Linked DNA regions of Homo sapiens. The protein of the gene in region 3 purifies or fractionates together with the protein of the main gene of each other region. This does not show direct contact. Each region holds a gene or a part of one and is shown on either strand. Other genes may lie near its edges.

What was found.
Region 1: the proteins of CA8 (region 3) and POF1B purify together in Homo sapiens (affinity purification with mass spectrometry; 3 studies listed by BioGRID and IntAct, with this or other methods). This does not show direct contact.
Region 2: the proteins of CA8 (region 3) and FGG purify together in Homo sapiens (affinity purification with mass spectrometry; 3 studies listed by BioGRID and IntAct, with this or other methods). This does not show direct contact.

What each region holds. Positions count from the first base shown.
Region 1 is NC_000023.11:85,373,072-85,376,727, reverse strand, and holds part of POF1B (protein POF1B), read left to right. Parts: intron 1-3,656. UniProt on the Homo sapiens protein: Plays a key role in the organization of epithelial monolayers by regulating the actin cytoskeleton. May be involved in ovary development.
Region 2 is NC_000004.12:154,610,430-154,614,185, forward strand, and holds the start of FGG (fibrinogen gamma chain isoform gamma-B precursor), read right to left. Parts: upstream 2,228-3,756; 5' UTR 2,181-2,227; coding exon 2,103-2,180; intron 2,007-2,102; coding exon 1,962-2,006; intron 1,773-1,961; coding exon 1,589-1,772; intron 1,470-1,588; coding exon 1,376-1,469; intron 1-1,375. UniProt on the Homo sapiens protein: Together with fibrinogen alpha (FGA) and fibrinogen beta (FGB), polymerizes to form an insoluble fibrin matrix. Has a major function in hemostasis as one of the primary components of blood clots.
Region 3 is NC_000008.11:60,271,272-60,274,927, reverse strand, and holds part of CA8 (carbonic anhydrase-related protein), read left to right. Parts: intron 1-3,656. UniProt on the Homo sapiens protein: Does not have a carbonic anhydrase catalytic activity.

The DNA.
Region 1 (3,656 bases), on a different chromosome or scaffold from region 3:
AGTACATGCTTTTATTCTCTTAACCTCTTGTGCACTAAAATGGTGTTTATGGATATAAACATATTTTAAATTTATCTAGATATATAATGTTACTTTGTTTCTTTAATTAAACATATATTTTATGTTTTTTGGTTATTATTTTGTTTGATTGATAGAGTGTTTCTCAGAGAAAATTAAGTGTAGAAACCAGTTGCTGGTGAAATTTTCTAAATTAATGGTAGAATTAAAATTACTGGGTTTATCTGCATGAACACGTATAGTCAAACACAGATATAATCAAGGTCTCAGATGCATTTTAGAACTGAATGTGGTCTTGCAAATAAATAGAGTTCTAGAAGCTTAAAGTAAAACAAAAATTCTTAGTTCAATCTTTTACAAAGCTTAGCTGTTAACCTACCATCATTAACTCAAAATGAAATGCCTTAAATGAGCAACATTGATATGAATTACTCATTGGGCTAACATTCTTTCCTTCCACTAATTAAGGTTTTCATGAAGTTCGAGGTATTTTTCATGCATACAGAGCAGCTGTATACATGAGAGAGAAAAAATGTGAGAGAGAAAAAATGGATTAAAATAAAATATTTTTAAATACCAGTCATTCACTGAATACATGTTTATTAAGTGCCTATTTTTTAGCAAACACTGTGATTTTCTGGATAAATACCATTAACCTGTCCAGGGAGAGTTCATTTTTAGGACAGACATACAGAGCCTGGTCTGTAGGTGTCCCATGTGTCTATCTATATTTCATTTTAAAGGAGTATTTTGTGTTGTGACCATCAGCATTTTATCAAGTAAAACATGCTTTTGTGAGAGAAGGATTATTTTAGTGTATATGTTATAAGGGTTGCCATTCTTTTGAATTTGAAACTTGCAAAGAAACTCTAGAGAGCAGCCTGGGGGAAAATGTGTGTTTACGAATGACCTCTGTTCTCAACAATTATTCAGCTGGGGCTTACCTTTGTTTATATGATTTTTTTGTGCTTTTTCTTTGGTTGCAAAGATTGTGGATAACTCTTCTCTTCCACTATCAGAAAAGTTTCCCGTTCTGTGGGGAGGGGTGTGCTGCTTTGATAAATTGTTGTTCAAGGGCGTAGTCACTAAAGTGAATGATTGTTCAAGGAAGTGCGCTGCCTGAAAAAAGAATGAGGTCATAGGATAAAGGGGTTGCATTTTCAGCTTTGGTCTCCTCTTTTGTGCTTACAATTAAATGAAGCTATAGAAATTGGAGAGTGCAACTAATTGCTGAGTGAAAATGCCCATGGCAATTGTATCTTGTTTAACGGAGGTCTGATAAATTGCTGGGCCTGTTTTCAGTCAAAGGCACTCATAAGCTGTCACGGTGTGTGTGTGGCAAGATATGAGGGTGGCAAGTGGAAGAGAGGGAAACTGTCCTTTCAAGTTTATTTTCTTGACAATTCATGACAAAACAATTGGGAAATTTGCCATGCTCTTAAGCCCTATTTAAAAGTTAAAACTTTTATTAATAAATATATTTCAGCCAACTTTTTCTTCAGACCAGGGGCTATCCCAGTAGAGGTCATTTTTTGATTTTCAATAAAGTATATATACTCATAATTTTTAAAGACAGAAAGCATGCACTGCAAAAAAGACTGTGTATTTTATTTTCTCTCTGTCTCCTAGTTTTCTTCAGAAAAAGAAGAGAAAGAACCCAATATGGACCTCTTAAATGAGGGATTTGGGTTGGAGAGAAGGAGGAACAGGAAGTAGTTCTATTATACATTCGGTTGCTTTCTTTGTATGACAACAGAAACACAGATTTTATCCTAAATCAAAGAAGTGTTTATTTCATCTAAAGAGAGATTATTATAAATAACATGTTTCTTGCTATATAAGTTGAGTATAACATCTCAACAATAACCTCAGACAGGTGTTTAACTATGTTACATGGCTTTGAAAGATCCTAACAAAAACATCTCCCATACTATTCAGGGAATTTATTCAAATGGAGGTTTGCCTTGGCAAATTCTGTCAGCATAAATGTCAGGTGGTTTTTAAAGATATTGCTTCTTTTGAAACTGTTCAGCCTAGAGTATTTGTAACTCACCATTATTACCTTCAGTGATTCTCATAGTCATTGGGAGTAACAGGAGCATACACAAACCTTCCATGGTTTTCCTTCATGGAATATTATACTGTATATTAGTCTTTATGTAAAGTTTTAAAATTCAAATTAGACAACATAAAGAGTTATACTTTCATGTTAGCAAGTTTCCAAATATTTAGAAACAAAGCCTGCACTACGTATGTAATATTCTCTATGATTTAATTCTCATTACCTTCAGTCTTTCTTGTATGTCTTACACCAGGCTTTTGAGCTCTTTGACCACAGCTATCAACAGGAAAATGAAGCCAACAGGTCTTGACTGAAGAGGTTCAGATTTTGCAGTCTAAAGACCAATTGCAGAGAAAATTGTATGAAGAAAATGCCCAAAAAGGTCTATGTGGAATGTCTCAGGAAGAGCTGTAAATAAATATGCAATCATGAGGTGAACTTTGGCAGAATAGAACTATGAAGCAGTCTAGTTGGAGTCCCTAGGAATATTAATTTTAAAATCTCCACAACTTTAATTACACCTAAGAATATGTTCTCTAGAAAAGTTGCTTAAATTCCCTATACACATCCCATATCACTCCTCTGCTGCAAAAACCTTCAATGACACTAAGTATCTATAAATTGCTTAGTCTGACTTTCAAGGCCCTCCATGTTAGGGCTCCTGTGGAACTTCCTGGAACTCTCCTTCTGGTGTCCTATGTTTTAGCTAAGTGTAAATGATTGTTCTCTAAATAAAGTCCCCAATTTTCCACAGCTATGTCTTTCACTCCATTGCTCTTACATCTGAACTGCTCCTGCTCCTCACCCTCACCAATCTAGACACCCTGAAATTATACAAATTTTTCAAGCCTTTCCTCAAGTGTAACCTTCTGATCCTCTGATTGTCCCAGGTTGAAGTTATCTCTTAGCCCTCAAAACTTACCTAGTGAGCTTCTTATAGGTCTTATGATAGTCTACTTAATTCCTATTTGTACTCATAGTGTTTATGCCCTACATGATTATAACCATGAGAGGGTAGAGATTATATTCTAACATCATTTGTATCTCTTTCAATGCCACTACACAATAAGTAGTAAAGAAACTGCAAGTTAGTAACTTAGTCACATATATAATCAATCCAGTGAAAATAATATTTCATATTAATACATGGGTTTTTTGTTTTTCACAACTCTTCCATGTATATGATTATCTAGTAAACAACTTGATAGAACCTCAACAATTAGATAAAACATGCATTATTATGTTTATTGTACAAATTGTACGATGTACAAATAAAGACAATATTCATTGTGTATTATTTATCTGTTAAACAAATAAGGAAATTGAGACTCGAATAGCTCAAAATAACTTGCCTATTTAGTACAGCTGGTTAGTGAATGCCCTGAGTTTAAAAACCAGCTCCTGATATTTTCATTACATCAGCTATCTCCCTTAATTAACTTTCGATATTCATGATTTCAGTTTAAATTAGTTCACATTTTTTATTTCAACAAAACATTTGATGATTACCCTTACTGTATATTTTCCCATTCTAATGTTCCATTATCAGAATGGAAAATATCAAAAATACATTAGA
Region 2 (3,756 bases), on a different chromosome or scaffold from region 3:
AATACAATGTGGACCTGAATCTTTTTACTTAGAATGGGGCATATTGTCTCAACTCCCAACACAAATAACAAAGTCCTTGTCAATAAGCAAATGTCATTGACATTTTGCTTTTTACTTTATGCATAAGGGACAGCAGATAGCAACCTGCAAGAGTGGCGGGACTGGTTAATAGGAACACCCCCTGATGCTTTAGAAGCAGGAAAAGCTCAGTTCAGTAATTCACATGTGCTGAAGGAGTATACCTTTCACTTGTGGATCTACTGAGGCTATACATATAAGCTTCAATCTAAAATATAACTTACACAGGGACATGATCTGGAACGTTATTGTATGTAAAATAAAACAACAGATACTTCCCCTTTCTTCTTTAATGCTTCTGGTTACATAGCTTTGGGAATGGACTGGGGGAAGTAAAAACCCTCCTTTTGTAGTTACTTACAGGGTGGCTTGCAAATATCCAAAAATGATAGAAAACTGTCTACAATGCATAAACCGTTCTTTCTTTGAAGTAAAAAAGGGTAGACAAACTATTTGTCCACGTTTTCCCTCTACCTTGTCTTAGGCAATTTCTGTACAATAACCTCCTTCAACTTCAATGATGGACAATAATAATGCAAGTAATAATAATAACAATAATAACAAGGGCCCTCTGATAGCAAAAAGAGGAGAAATCTTTCCTGGGCCACTTCTCCCTAGCTACTATTTATCTCAATTTCTCAAGCTGCTTTGAGAAAAATTCAGAAAAAAAAATTGGGGAAAAATATTAAAACTGTATCTGAGACCTTATGTTCAGAAAGTTTATGAGTCCCTGAGAAGCTTTAACAGAGACATTCACTTCCAAATGAAGGGAAGAGACTATGCAGGTTCATTCTGCAATGATCAATATGAGCTTTGCAATATTTGCCACACTTAGTCTCTCAAGACATGTTTCTTCCTGCTCCACATTCAATATAATTTACTTTAGGAGCCAAAATCCTTACTATGCCTCTGCTTGCTAATTTTTTTAACCACCAATTTGTCAGCATTTTTATAAAGAGGATTTTATTTTCAACACCCAAATTCCTATGAGATTGATTTTATGTTGTAAGATAAATGGGGGATGGGGAAAAAATTTTTGATAAATATGGTCAAACTAGCATTTGAAGACATCTAGAACATCTTTCTTCAATGTGATTATTAATAAGCAATTATAACCCAGTATAATTTATATTGCACTAAAAACTTCTATCTCTACTATGCTCAACATAATCAGGCATAATGTCACTGGGATATTATAAATGGGGAAAACACATTAAAAATTACTTTCACTCAAGTATAGAATATTAAATAAAAACTAAATCAGTCTTGCAGAGCAAATTAAAACAAAAATCCTTACCGAATACTTGAGTCATGTGTTAAAATCGATGCTTCATATTTCATAATTTCTTCTAACATTTTCCTGGACTTCAAAGTAGCAGCGTCTATCATATCTGTAATATAGGATCAGAGACATAAAAATCCTTAAGCAAATAGAACAACTAAAACAACAGCAAAAGAACTTCACAGATTATTATTATTATTTTTTGGTCAGTAGTCTTTATTTTCTCACTTGGTTTTGATGATTCATCAGGATTATAAGTGAGTTGGATTGCTTTTATCAGCTGTTTGACTTCTGATGTTTTGTTTTCAACTTGATGTAAGATGTCTTCCAAAGACTGTAGATCCTTGTCTACTTTGGTTTGATAAGTAGACAGGAAATCTGCAATGCCACAGGTAGTTGGACAATAACTACCCTGAAAATATAACAGTGATTAAAAATGTAGACAGATGCTACTCTTAAAATCTATTAAGAAAAATAGGTAAAACCTAGACTATGTTTTTAAAAAGTTACAAGTGCCAGATGATATTTATGAGGGAATTATTTCTATTCCTCTGCCCCTCTCCAGTTCACACACAAAGGGAGAAACATAAAAACTACTTACGAATCTTTCATCTAAGATGCAGCAGTTGTCTCTGGTAGCAACATACTAAAAGAGAAAAAATACAGAAATTTCACTAGTTTATTATCTGTTTTATTTTCCAGCTTTCCATTTTAAACAACGTTTTGTGAAGAGCACACTTACTGCTACACATGTTGAAGAGAGAAATAAAAGAGCATAGAAGTAGAGAATTAAATTCCGGGGGTGCAAGGACCAACTCATGATGTCTGAGTGCCCGGAGCTCCGAGCCTTGTAGTGTCAGCACTGTCACCTCTCAGGCTCCAATTGTCCCTTTATGTAAGCTCCTGGGATAGCCAGGACTGCAAATGGCTGGAGCTGATCACGGGGCCTCCTTACCAGAAGGGTGGGCAGGTCTTTCCCGTTCCTTTTTCCTCATCCTGGCCCCCAACCTATACTGTCAGGTTCCCAGATTTTGCACACAGGTTGAAGCTCCTCCTTTTTGGCCCAGCTCAAGGTTTTTTCTCTGATCCAAAATTATCTGCAAAGGCTAGTGAAGCATTATCCATTGCTGTGAGGAGGAGGGCAGTCCTGGAGGCTGTGTGATGCAACTTCTTCCAGTACATGGCTGAGAGCAAACAGATATGACCTCGAACTAAGCAAACCTAGTCTATCCTTAAGATGGGTCCTGCTGCCATCACCTGAATTACCAAAAGAACTTTCTTAGCTTAGGGATCAGTTAACACTATTATTTTAGCCTAGGGATCAGTTAACATTATTATTTTTAATCTGTGGCTGTGGCAGGAGGAGACTGACTTCCCCCATGTCCCAGTTCACTATTCCCAGGAATGAATGACCCTGGAAATACATTCCTGTCCCTCTGTGTCAACCATGTTCATAGGCTCTCACTTCTCAGGGAGCTTTTGAGCTCAATCTTCCCTTTGTCTGAAGGTGGGCATGGCACCCCATCTGCCACAGAGAAAAGAGCCAGGAGCCCACTTCATTGTTCCTGTGGTTCCATCAAGCTATCTCAGAGAAGAGAAAAATCCACCTCCCTTGTATCTAAGGAGAGTAGAGGCATAGCTGAAGGAAGGGGCAAAATGAGGTGCTGGGGAGGGGCCATCATTTCTGTTTGGCCCTTACAGCATCCTTGTGTTTGGGAAAACATGTCTGTCATCACTGCCTATTGAGATTTATCACTGGGCGTTACACTATTATTAATGTCTCTATTTTTGGTTATCCCTCATTTCTTCCTCTGGAACCAAGCTTATTATAAGTTTTGATGAAATATGTTAGTGGGAGAAATGCCTCCAGTTTGAAAGAAATACTAATACTTTAATTCTGTCTTTACAAAGGTATATTTATTGACTCAAAAACAAAGATAAATATTCATATTCAGTAAATAATCAATAATTATAACAAAGTGAACACATCAAAACCAGATTTGTTGCTTTTCTTCTCCTCCTTAATATATCCCTCTCTGACTTAGCAGTTATTGTCAATCATATCACCATACCACCAGCCAATTAAGTCTCACAATCTTTCTCATCCATCTTTTCCACTCAGCTAATCAGTTGTCAATCAAGTCAGTTGAATTAAACATTTAAGTATTAGTATTCTTTCAAACAGCTCTACCTCAGATAGCATTTGTAGCAACCTTATATTATATGTATACATGCTGTATCCACTGCATTAGATTGTAAACTGATTTCTGTGGCTACGGCATCTAACATATATAGCTGTACTTAACATAGTTGTAGTTAACACTCAATAACTATGTAATGACTTGAATCAGTTGCCTCTGTGAAGAAGAATGGGATGCAGAGGTGGAGGACAGGAT
Region 3 (3,656 bases):
TTTTCTGTTTTCAGTTTCCTACTTTGCACTGCCACATTCAGAAGTATCTCTAATGCTTCCACCTCCTGAGTCTTTTCTCGTGTCTTAGTCTGTTTGGCTACTATAATAAAATACTGTGGAGTAGGTAATTTATAAATAATAGAAATTTATTTGTCCTAGTTCTGGAGACTCGGAAGTCCAATATCAAGCTGCTGACAGATTTGGTGTCTGGTGAGGGCTCTTCCTCTGCTCTGTACATGGTGCTTCGGTGCTACGTCCTCACATGGTATGAGGCAGAAGGGTCAAACAGGCTCCCTGGAGCCCTTTTATAAGAGCCTCATCCCATTCTTAGAGCAGAGCCCTCATCCGATTTACCTGATCACCTCCTGGACATCTTATACTGTTGCATTGGGGATTCAGTTTCAACATGGATTTTGGAGGGGGATGCAGGCATTCAAACCATAGCATCTGGGTTCTGCGGTAGGAATTACCTGCCTCTTGTGGCCTTCTTCCTGTAGTTACTTAGCTTTTAGCTTTCTCTTTTTGCTGAATCACTCACTACCTTTGTCTGCTTTCCAGCACCACCCCCCTACCGCCGCCCATTATTTTGGGCATTTCTCTTTTGCTCTTGTTCTCCAGTCTTGTTCATGTTGCTCTGGCAAGTTGTGCCCTCTTCATTTAGTGAGAATTGAGGAGGGAGGGCAGATAAATGTTTTGAGTACAATCTTCCTTGTCTAACTGGAGGTACCCCCTGCAAATACAGTGGGCTGTCTTCTTAAATTAAAAAAAAAATCCACACAAGAAGCACAGTTCTTTTTAGAAATTAAAGCTGACTTCACACCACCACTGTGCTAAAACCTCAGCCCTCCCTGAGGCTGTCTTTGGCCTCAGTTATTTTGTTTTATTCTTTATTTTTGCTTAGTTTATATTAACAAATCATAAATAATTGCCAAAAAGGTTTAGAACAGTTGTAGTATAATTTAAATGCTTAAACTTATCAAACTAAAACTTCTAACATAATTGTAATGATATTGTTCCTGTATATATAATCCCATCTGGAGTTACTGCCTTAATATAAATTTGAGGGTTTTCAGGGGCATGAGCCCCTGCCCCCATCCCTCTCTGCTGGAACTTCTCAAGCCAAGGTCACTGATGAACTCATCATCCCCTAAATCCAATGGGCATTTTTATATTCTTACAGGACTTTAACTCTGCTGCACTGGAAATGGAATTTTTGGAAGTTTTCTCTCCTGTTAGTCTCTGGGCCACACAGTTCCCTGACACTTCTTCCTAATTTTGACTGCCTTTTCTCTGCTGGTGCTTCATCTTCCACTGTGCTTAAATAACAGGGTTTCTTAAGGTTTCCTTCTGAACCCTCTTCTCCTGCATGTACCCCATGAGCAGTGCATCTGCATAGACTGTGTGCTACTTTGTTCGTCTTCTTTTTCCCCATAAGAGAGCAAAGGAGCTTAGAAAAGGAGCCACAGTGATAGGCTCTCTGAGTGGCATGGGCCAGTGTAGCCTCCCATCTCAGACCCCTGGCAGGTGGGTGGGCAGCTTGAATAGCTCAGGGAAGGAAATCCATTTCTCACAAGAAAACCCATTTTGCTTTTGAGCAATTCCAAAAGTCAAAAAGTTCTATGATCTCCGCCATTGTCTCTCTTTAAGTCTCTGGACATATTTAGAACAAATATAATTATACTTCCACTTTCAAATACTGCAGTCATAACATGCAGTTGCCATTTTTCTTTTCAGACATTCTTAGTTCTTTCAGCTGTTGCTCACATGACAGCCTTTCATCCTTCAATACTTACTTATTGATAATTTACTATGGGAATTATAGACTCACTTGTCTTTTAGACCCAGGCAGATATAATACTATACATGAGAGCAACCAGGAGAGCAAGAGATTGTAAATAGCTACTGATCCTCTGCTTCATCTGCAGTGTCAATAGACAAGACAGTAGGGGCTGGTGGGGACTGCAGGAACTGGCAAGCTGCAGAGAGCAGGCCTACTTTGCCAGATGTTTAATGTGTCAGGAGAAACTGGAGATGTGCACCTGTGAACTAAACATACGTGTTCATTGGTTTCCTCTGGCCTGCAGGGTGAGGTTGGCAATCTTTGTTTCATCTTTTGCAAACAGTTACATGCTTTGGATAAGGTAAGTATAAATCAGATCCAAAGCCTGCCCTCAAGGAGGATACAATGGTAGGTCATGGAATATATTATAGCTATACAGGGAGAGATTATTTTTGGTGGAAATTCTTAGGGAAGGATTTGTGGAGGAAAGAGCATTTGAAATAATCCTTGATGGATGAATAGCATTTGGATATGGGGAGCCTGAGGTGTGTGGGAAGAAGGGACAGCTTGCACAAAGGATAAGATATGGAAAGTTCTAGAGGTTGTATGAGGAAAGGCCAATCCTTCAGTATGTCTGGAAGAGATTTGTTCATGATAAAGGGGGTTAACAGGAAATAGAATAGAGAGGGTATTATGGAGCAAATTCATGAGGGACTCTGCACAGAGGCTAAAGAGTAGAACCTTTCTTTTTTTTTTTTGTAGGATAAAGTCATAATTAGAACATTGCTTTAAGAAAATCAAGCTGGCAGCACTGAATGAGATGGGATCTGGGAGAGAGTGTGAGCCAGTTTGAAGGTTAGTACAAAAGACTCAACCAAAACCACAGGCATTGCAGTGTCAGTGGAAAAGGAGGGGAAGACACAGGAGTGATCTCTGCGATGCAATCTACAGAATGTCATGGGTCAGTTATGTGGAGCAGGGATGTGGAGGAGATCAGTGGAGAGAGATGGCTTGGATGGAGCCCCCGGTTTCAGATCCTGTCACTATTCTACCTCTGCTCTGGGCAAATTTCAAGGTAGCAGAGTCCCTCCCTCCTAACATGGAGTTGAAGCAAGCATCACATTCCAGGGTGATCTGACCAGACTATTGGTCCTATTATCTCCTAGAGCATGGAGAATTTTATTAAGGCTGCCACATGTATCATTTAGCTTCTCAGCAGGACAAGTGGGTCACTGTCTCTCAGGAATCTTGACATTTAAGGTACACAGGCAAATTAAAATTAAACATCTTTGCAGTGGTATAAAGAGGATTGTAAGCATAAAAAATAATTACAGATTTCTAGCCTGAGTGGCTTGATACTTAAGTAGTGAGAAAATGTGTGAGACTGCCCACACTTGTGCAGTAGTGTCACTCCAGCTGACTACAAGCAATGTCTTAAGGGTAATGACATTTTTAATCAACCATCATTATGGGAGAAATTGCCAATCAAGATAGGTCATTTGTGCCCTTCACTGTTTCTTATTATAGAAACTTTAATTAGGATATTTTATTTCTGGGTCTCTTGTAATTCTCAATACTAATTTTAGGATAGATGATGATGATTATTAATCCTACTTTTCCCCCCCAAACATGGCAACTTTTTAACAGTGTTTCTTGGCAACCTTGCTGATTTAAAGATGAAATTGTCAAAAATATCTTAAAAATTATTTTCACTGAAGAAGAGGCTCTATCTTTTTTATTTATATGAAATGTCAGGGCTGAACTTCTTTTTCCTTCTTTCTTTTCTCTCTCTCTGTCTCTCTTCTTTCTTTTTTTTTTCAGGCTCTCATTCTGTTGGCCACGCTGGAGTACAGTCATAGCTCACTGCAGCCTCCAA